Regions from separate parts of the Homo sapiens genome. Here region 2 is reported to be linked to region 1. The links are microRNA targets in miRTarBase. Many come from high-throughput screens and were not tested one by one. Region 1 holds a microRNA gene; the other region holds the end of a gene's coding sequence.
The links. The annotated mature microRNA hsa-miR-1915-5p reads ACCUUGCCUUGCUGCCCGGGCC and lies in region 1 at 2,208-2,229, opposite strand. An mRNA with a match to its seed (bases 2 to 7 or 8) in the 3' UTR can be bound and repressed. Matches are read on the target gene's strand: a 7mer-m8 pairs with bases 2 to 8, a 7mer-A1 pairs with bases 2 to 7 and ends in A, and an 8mer does both.

Region 2: the mRNA of MACROD2 is a reported target of hsa-miR-1915-5p. The part of its 3' UTR that is shown has no 7-base or 8-base seed match.

The regions. Positions count from the first base shown.
Region 1 is chr10:21,494,402-21,497,798 of GRCh38, forward strand. It overlaps MIR1915 (microRNA 1915), which reads right to left and starts at 2,240; the gene lies at 2,161-2,240. It overlaps MIR1915HG (MIR1915 host gene), which reads right to left and starts at 2,859. Exons shown (of 2, transcript NR_160800.1): 1 at 2,349-2,859; 2 at 1-1,544. RefSeq lists an enhancer at 122-915 and silencers at 427-526, 1,340-1,779, 1,830-1,879, 2,090-2,339.
Region 2 is chr20:16,049,145-16,052,541 of GRCh38, forward strand. It overlaps MACROD2 (mono-ADP ribosylhydrolase 2), which reads left to right. Exons shown (of 18, transcript NM_001351661.2): 18 at 686-3,397. The coding sequence ends at 732. Among named protein-coding and RNA genes, the nearest start is that of KIF16B, 520 kb to the right of the region's middle.

The sequences.
Region 1 (3,397 bases):
AGGCTGCCCCATGCGCGCTGGGGTTGTCGCCGCGCCTCCTGCGCGCCCCAGTGCCCCCAGAATCTCCAAGAAAGCAATCGTGAGCGCGGATCAGTTTCTGTCTTTCCCAGAAAGCGGGCTTTTTATTGAGGGGAAACTTAGCTGGGAAAAGTCAGCTCGTACGTTTGTTTTGGTTTTTCGTCTATTTGCTTCCCAATTTAAAAGTGGCCGCCTAGGCGACAGGCCTGCGGTTTTCACAGTGTAAAACGGATCAGAGGGAAAGCTCCAGCCCCTCTCGACTTTCGCTTGCGGTTTGCAACCCCTGGGGTGGGTCTGACCCCGCGCGGCACTTGCCCAGGCGAGCTTCCCTCGTCGCGGCCCGACCCGCGCGCGGACTCGGCTTCCCCAGGTCAGGACCCACTAGGTGGGCCGCTCGGCCCCAAGCCTGGCAGGGCGGAGCCTAGGCCGCGCGCCCCGGGGTTGGAGGTTCCCACGGAGCCGGGAAACTGCGCGCCCCAGGTCCGCAGGCCGCCTCCCTTCCCTCGCGCCCTCGCACCCGCCCTCTGCTCTGCCGCTCCCGGTCCTGGGTGTGCGGGAGTCCCGGGGGTCCCTCTCCTGGACGCAGAGGAGGAATTTGGAGCAAAAGGAAGGGAATTTACTGCGGATGGCACCGGAACCTGAATTGACTTGTGCGTTTCCTGCTCTGGGCACGTAGGTTTCCCCTAGGAATCTGGAGTTCGCTGAGGACACTTAATTCCAAGAGATGATGGGTTCACATAAACATACCATTTAGTTAAGAAAAATATTTAAAATAAAGAAAAAAGAAAAACTGAACTTCGATCTTCTTCTCCACGTTCCCTGGTGTCACCAAATAAACAAAGCATTCGGACGAGAGTGGGCTGCTGGGGGCTCGGGAGGTGCGCGAGACAAGGTTACCCTGCGGGTCCGCCACTGCCCCCGGCCTCCAGCACTGCACTGCCCACGAGTTTGCGGGGTGTGAGCGCCGAAGGAGAACCCCGGACCGCCCAGTCTCAGCCTAAAAACTTGGATCCAAGAGTCCTACGGTTGTGGATGTGCCAGTCCTCCGCGACCCTTTCCTGCTGGCCTTCTGCTTTTTATAAACGAAAATAAAAGTTTGATTTAGGCTTAAAGAAATGTCATTCTGGTCGTTCCTCCCTGAAGCGGGACTTACTCAACCTCATATACTCGCCCGGAATTTTCAATCTCGCCTGTCGAAATCGCTAGCTGCGCATCCGCGGAAGAAGTCCTGGATGAGAGGTAGGGTGAAGGGATCAAGCAGATAGCAGCAGGCATCAGCACACTCCGGCCGTTCCGGACGGTCAGGCCCGCCGCTACAGGGAGAAGTGCGGCGGATGGAGCCAGGGCTGCGGGTTGCGCGCGGGCTGGGAACCCGGTGGTGCCACCTTAAGAGTCGGGTCCGCGCAGCGGCTGCGGAGGCGCCCGGCACCTGCAGGGGGCGCTGCTGCCCCGTGGTTTCTCCCGCGCCGCCGCGTGCAGCGGGCCTGGCAGCTCCGGGGCCCCGGTCCCCGGAGGGGGTGGGGACGCTGGGGGAGGAAGGGAGCGAAGTGCAGCCGTTAGGTAACGAACCCGAACCCTCCCGGATTCAGAAGCGGCCTCAGTGAGGCGTTTGCTGGAGGGAGCTTTCCATCATTCGGCCGCGAGAGGAAACGTGGGGAGGCGCCCTCCCCTGCCCCCACCGCCTGCCTTCCTGCCTCCCTCCACCTCCGCTCCCCGACCCCGACCGTGCTTCCCAGACCCTTTGTTCTCGAGGTTGGGAACGGCTGGGTGGGGGTTCCCCGGGGAAGAGGTCCCCCGCGCCGCTCGGAGGGGAAGGGACTGTCGCCTGCCCCGCACCCCAGCCCTCCCCAGTGCCGTCCCCCTTTCCCCCGGCCCCTTCCATCGCGTCCACGCGCTTCCGTTCTCACTCGGACTCCCCCAACTCCCGAGCTCCGGCTCCCCAGCCTGCACGGTCTGCAAGCCCGCCTCCCTTCCCACTTCCCCGCCACCTCTGAGGTCCCCGGGAAGAGGGGAGGAGAGGGAGACGTGTGGGGGAGGAGAAACCACAGAGCCTTCTCGGCGCGGAGCATTCCCAGGGACCCTTCCAGGCCCCGACCCCTGGGACCCGCTGCAGAGGCAGGGCTTTCCCGGCGCCGCCGCAGGTCGCTAGGGCCGCCCCCGCCGCGTCGCCCTGGGGCCCACGGGTGCACGGCCCGGGCAGCAAGGCAAGGTGCGGCCTCTCAGCGCCAGGACCCGAGACCCCCAGCTGGAGAGAAGGGGACACCGTGGTCCGCGCCCTGGGGAGGCTAATTGCACACGAACGCCCCCCTCTTCCCCGCCCCCCACCGTACCCTCTGCAGCGCCACCCGCGTCGCCTCTCCGCCGTGCGCCACCCTGAGGGCTCCCGCGATTGCATCTTCTTGAGCACAGTTACCAATGCGTTCAGCTTCGTTTCTTACTCGGATGGAGACATCGCGGAGGGAAGCGAGGGGACAGGGATGCGGTAGTAGGGGAAAGGTGGGGCGGGAAACCGAGCAGAGAGGTGGGAGACTTGGCTGAGGCAATGGCACCAGGCAGGGCCGCCCGGAGTCCCGAGTCCAGGTCCGCGAGGCAGGCCCCGGTGCAGCCGCGCCCCGGCCGAACCCTACATGTCCTCTGTACTGTGGACACGAGTCCGCGGAGCGCCAGTCACACCCCCGCACCCCTGCAAGCTCCCGCCGTAGAGGGGGCTCGGCACCATCCTGGTCACAAAGTACGTGCCCCCACCCCCCACCCCCAGGTGAAGAGGACGCAGCCCGGCGCCGTCAGCTCCAGGCTGCCTGGAGCCCCCTCCGGCCTCTCGGCGCGACCCTGGTCCTCAATGGCTCGTCGCGAGCTGCGCTAGCTGCTCTCTCGGCAGCGGGTTCCCCAGGACACACCCAGTCCCCACCCCCCGAGAGCTGGCGGCCAGCTCAGGATGCCAGGCGGCCAGGCGGGCGCCCTGCCAAATTCCGCGTTCCTCTCCAGGAGACGGGGAGTTGCGTCCCAGGCTCGGGAAAGCCCGCAGTTCGGGCTTGGGACTCGCTTACAAAGCCCCCCAAGGCGCCAGGGACGCCTCTGCAGGTTGAATTCCTGCTCCGTATCACTTCAATTTTAATTAATCTTTTAAAACACCGCTGTCACGTCGCTTGCAGAAAATTAATCAAACTTGAATCCTTGTTGCATAGCAAGAATTTCGATCCGAGTCTTTTAAAAAGGACTTGACTTTGCAAAGTCACGTCTTTTACAGTTCCCTCATTCCCCCTTTAGCAAGGGAAATACTGCAAAAGTCAAGACATGTTTGTTTGGTTCTTTCTATCTTCAAAATGAAACTTTGCTTATTTCTGATCTTTATTTTCCTGTCTTTGAACAAAAAAAAATA
Region 2 (3,397 bases), not on the chromosome of region 1:
TCCAGCAGGAGTGGGGTAGTAGGGAAGGGAACTTTCCAGGGTGATGTCATGTATATCTTCTTGGTGGTGTGGGTTTAATGTATGCATTTTTCAAAACAGATTGAAATGTATGCTTAAGATCTGTGTGTTTTCCTGTAGGCAGATTATACCTCAATTTTAAAAATCTAAAAAAAATAAAGAGTATAGGTTTTTGCAAGGCACAGTGTCTTCTTAGTGTCCTCTCATGGGTAGTGAATAAGGCAGATAATTTAATAAGTACAATCTGAAGTGGTGGCATAACCATCAATGACTTTTGCAAAGCAGCATTATGAAAATTGTTATTATTTATATGCTGATCCCTGGAAACTAGAGTGTGAGCATGGGCCTGAAAAGGGAAGCCACATCAACTCAGGGTTACAGTTTTCAACGAATACTTTGAAGAATTGAGTTAATCGTCCCCATCAGCCAAAGCTCGTTGTCAATGTGGCATACATTTATTAACAGTGATTTATATGCTCTTTAAAGATACCATGTGCCAGCAATTACAGTTCAGACATCTAAAGCTCTTTGATAGTCAAATAAGATATTTCTGGGCCTATGTGAGGGGTGAGAGACATTTAAATGGCTGTATTAAAAATGTATTCCTTGCTAAGCCTGTGAAGATGTCTTATCTTTAATCTAACAAATGGCTTCTCTTTGTCTTCAGCAGGGGCACAAGATGAAGCGAAGGAACAAAGAAATGGAACTAAATGACAATCCTCAGCATCGCAAGGCCTCTCCTGGCTCTGGGGGAGCTCGGGAAGATAGCAGCACACGCTGTGGAGGAGGGTGGGGGTGGGGGGAAGGCAAGTCCCATGGAAGGACGGGGAATCCTTTACTCTAATTTCTCCAGCTGCATTTTGTTCCGTTTATCTGCAGAAAAAGAAAGAAAAAAAAGAAAAAAAAAGTTTCCTTTAATTTGGTGGAGGGACCCATGTTGACGCATCTTTCAGGCATTATCCTTGTAATTTCTGTCTTTTCTCTTACAACTTTGCCCCAGGGTCACAGTGGCTTGATTGAACACTCACATGTGTATCCTGGCCCCTGTCTGCTTTCTTGGTTATTTCACAAAGCTGGTCACACAGTGGTTTATTCAAAGGAAGGGGAGGAAGACAGTGGTTTGATAAGCTGCAGGATAAATTTTAGGAATCAATGAGCCCAGCAGCAGTATAATCCCCAGACAGAGGAGGCAGGATAGAAAATGGGCAAAAGCCTCGGAAACCACTTGGAAAAGGTCTGGACAATGAGGTGAAAATATTTTCTTCAGGGTTCCCAAGGCACAATTTGTTCCAAGTGGCTAATGAGAAATATGGAAGCTGAATTTTTTCCAGAGCAGAGTGCAGAGGCATAACAGAAGGGTGGGCCCTGGCAGCCATCTGGGTCTCTTCCTTCCTAACCATGGTGGCAGGTGCATCCTTCTTTGACACTGACTTTCAGCAGAGCTTACTTGGTTCATGAGGTCTTCACATGGAGACTACCAGCAAGAGGTGACTCTCTGCTGCATAACTGTAAAGGATGGCCCTTTGCTAGGTGTTACAGTTAAAAGCTAAGAAAAGGGGCAGTGCATTTAGGACCCAAACATATGCCTATGAATATCAAAAGCTCCTCCTGAAATTGCTGTGAGTTTTCCATAAAAGAATATCCTGTCTTCACCCAAGGCTTGACAGCCCACAGAGTGGTCTCATTTGAAATTACAGGAAATTAGAGCTTTTGCTTGCAGTTCTGCCTTCCTGGCCTGTGTTTAAATGCTGTCACTTGTTTATGCCAAGTTCAAGGCTGATTCAATGGTTGGTCCCCTCACCCAGAAAACCCTGAAGGGGAGGATACAGCTCTGAAGGGGGGCAGCAGTACTAAAAACCCAAGATGCCAGTGGTATAGTGGGCACAAGGGATGGCGACCATGAGGATGCCAGGCATCATCACCAATATCTATCCTAGAGCCAGTATAAGGCCAGATGCCTACTTCCCACAGCCTCCCCGGGTTCCAAAGTCATGTCATTGTTTTCAGTGGAAACATATCGTTTGTTGCATATCTTCTTAAATCCATCTTCCTTGTAAGGGCTTTAGAACTAAAACTTACTTATATTGTTTTTCCTTAACAGAGGGAGAAAAATAGTGGATTATTATTTCTAAAATAAAAGGATGTTCTGCTTTCTAAATATCCCATCAAAATCTTCAGTTTTGCACTTTTTTGATGGAAAATTCATCTTATCTTCCTATGACTTTGGTTTTAGCCTTTCTGAATTTGTTACCCCTTCTGGATGGCTTATTTGATATACTGGAATAGTTAACAAGCTATACTTCAGCATATGCACTATATTCTAACAAATTTTTTTTAATAAAATCAAGACATCAGCAAGAATGACATTTACGTGACCTCATAATGTGGGATTATGGCCTTCTGTTGCTATTCCAGTTTGATATGGAAGCATCTATATCCTCTATTGCCGTTAGATGTTGTTGCTTTTCAGAAAAGTAACGAAAAGGCTCATTTTAAAGAATCCAAGAAACGATGTCATCCAAATATTGACAGTTTCTACATTTCATGCCATCTTTATAACTCAATTGAAAGTTGCCGTCATTCTTGTGAAGTATTTGACAAGTGCAATCTGCTAGAAGCTCGTTTTTCTTGTGACTCCCAAATGTTAGTGCTACTTAGCCTCAGTAATGAGTTACAGTTGAAAAAAACATGAGGGAAACAGAGGGACAGAGATTTTCTAATGAACAATGATGGAAGAGACCTAATGTCCTTGCTAGAAACAGCCAGGATGGAAATTATCCAGCCCTGGCATTCTCCTTATCATCAATGACAGTCATTTTATTCATTTATTTCAAATGTGGGTGGGCTAGAAGTGGAAGGAGGGAATTCTCTCTGCCTAAAAATTCTAGAAGAATGAAAGTAATCTTTGTATCCAGGAAACTAAGAGAATGAGGAATAAATATCTTCAGCCCGACTCCTGAATTTGTTTATTCTTCCATCTATAATTAGATTGTGTTTTCATTTTTGCTTTGTCATGCTTTTTGGTTGTTATTTGGCTATACAGTTTTATGCTTTAAAACAAATGATAAAGTTAATTTCCAATTCAATAGTGAAATATTAACAATCTAACTATAGCCAGATCAAAGACACCTGAACACAGAAAACCTTTATTTGCTGGTGCTGCCATTGCACAGGCTGTACAATGAAATAGATTTGAAAAGCTGATTGATTTTCCCGCACATAAATTCTGGATGTCAATTTCCAACCAAACTCCAATACAGCTATGTGGCATGAAGAGTTACAGGAGGGAGGGAGGAAAATAGCCCTATGTTAGTCATGTTTGCATACAGAGGATCAAAGTAGGCCTTCACCATAATAGTTCTAATTAAAATGGTCCTCG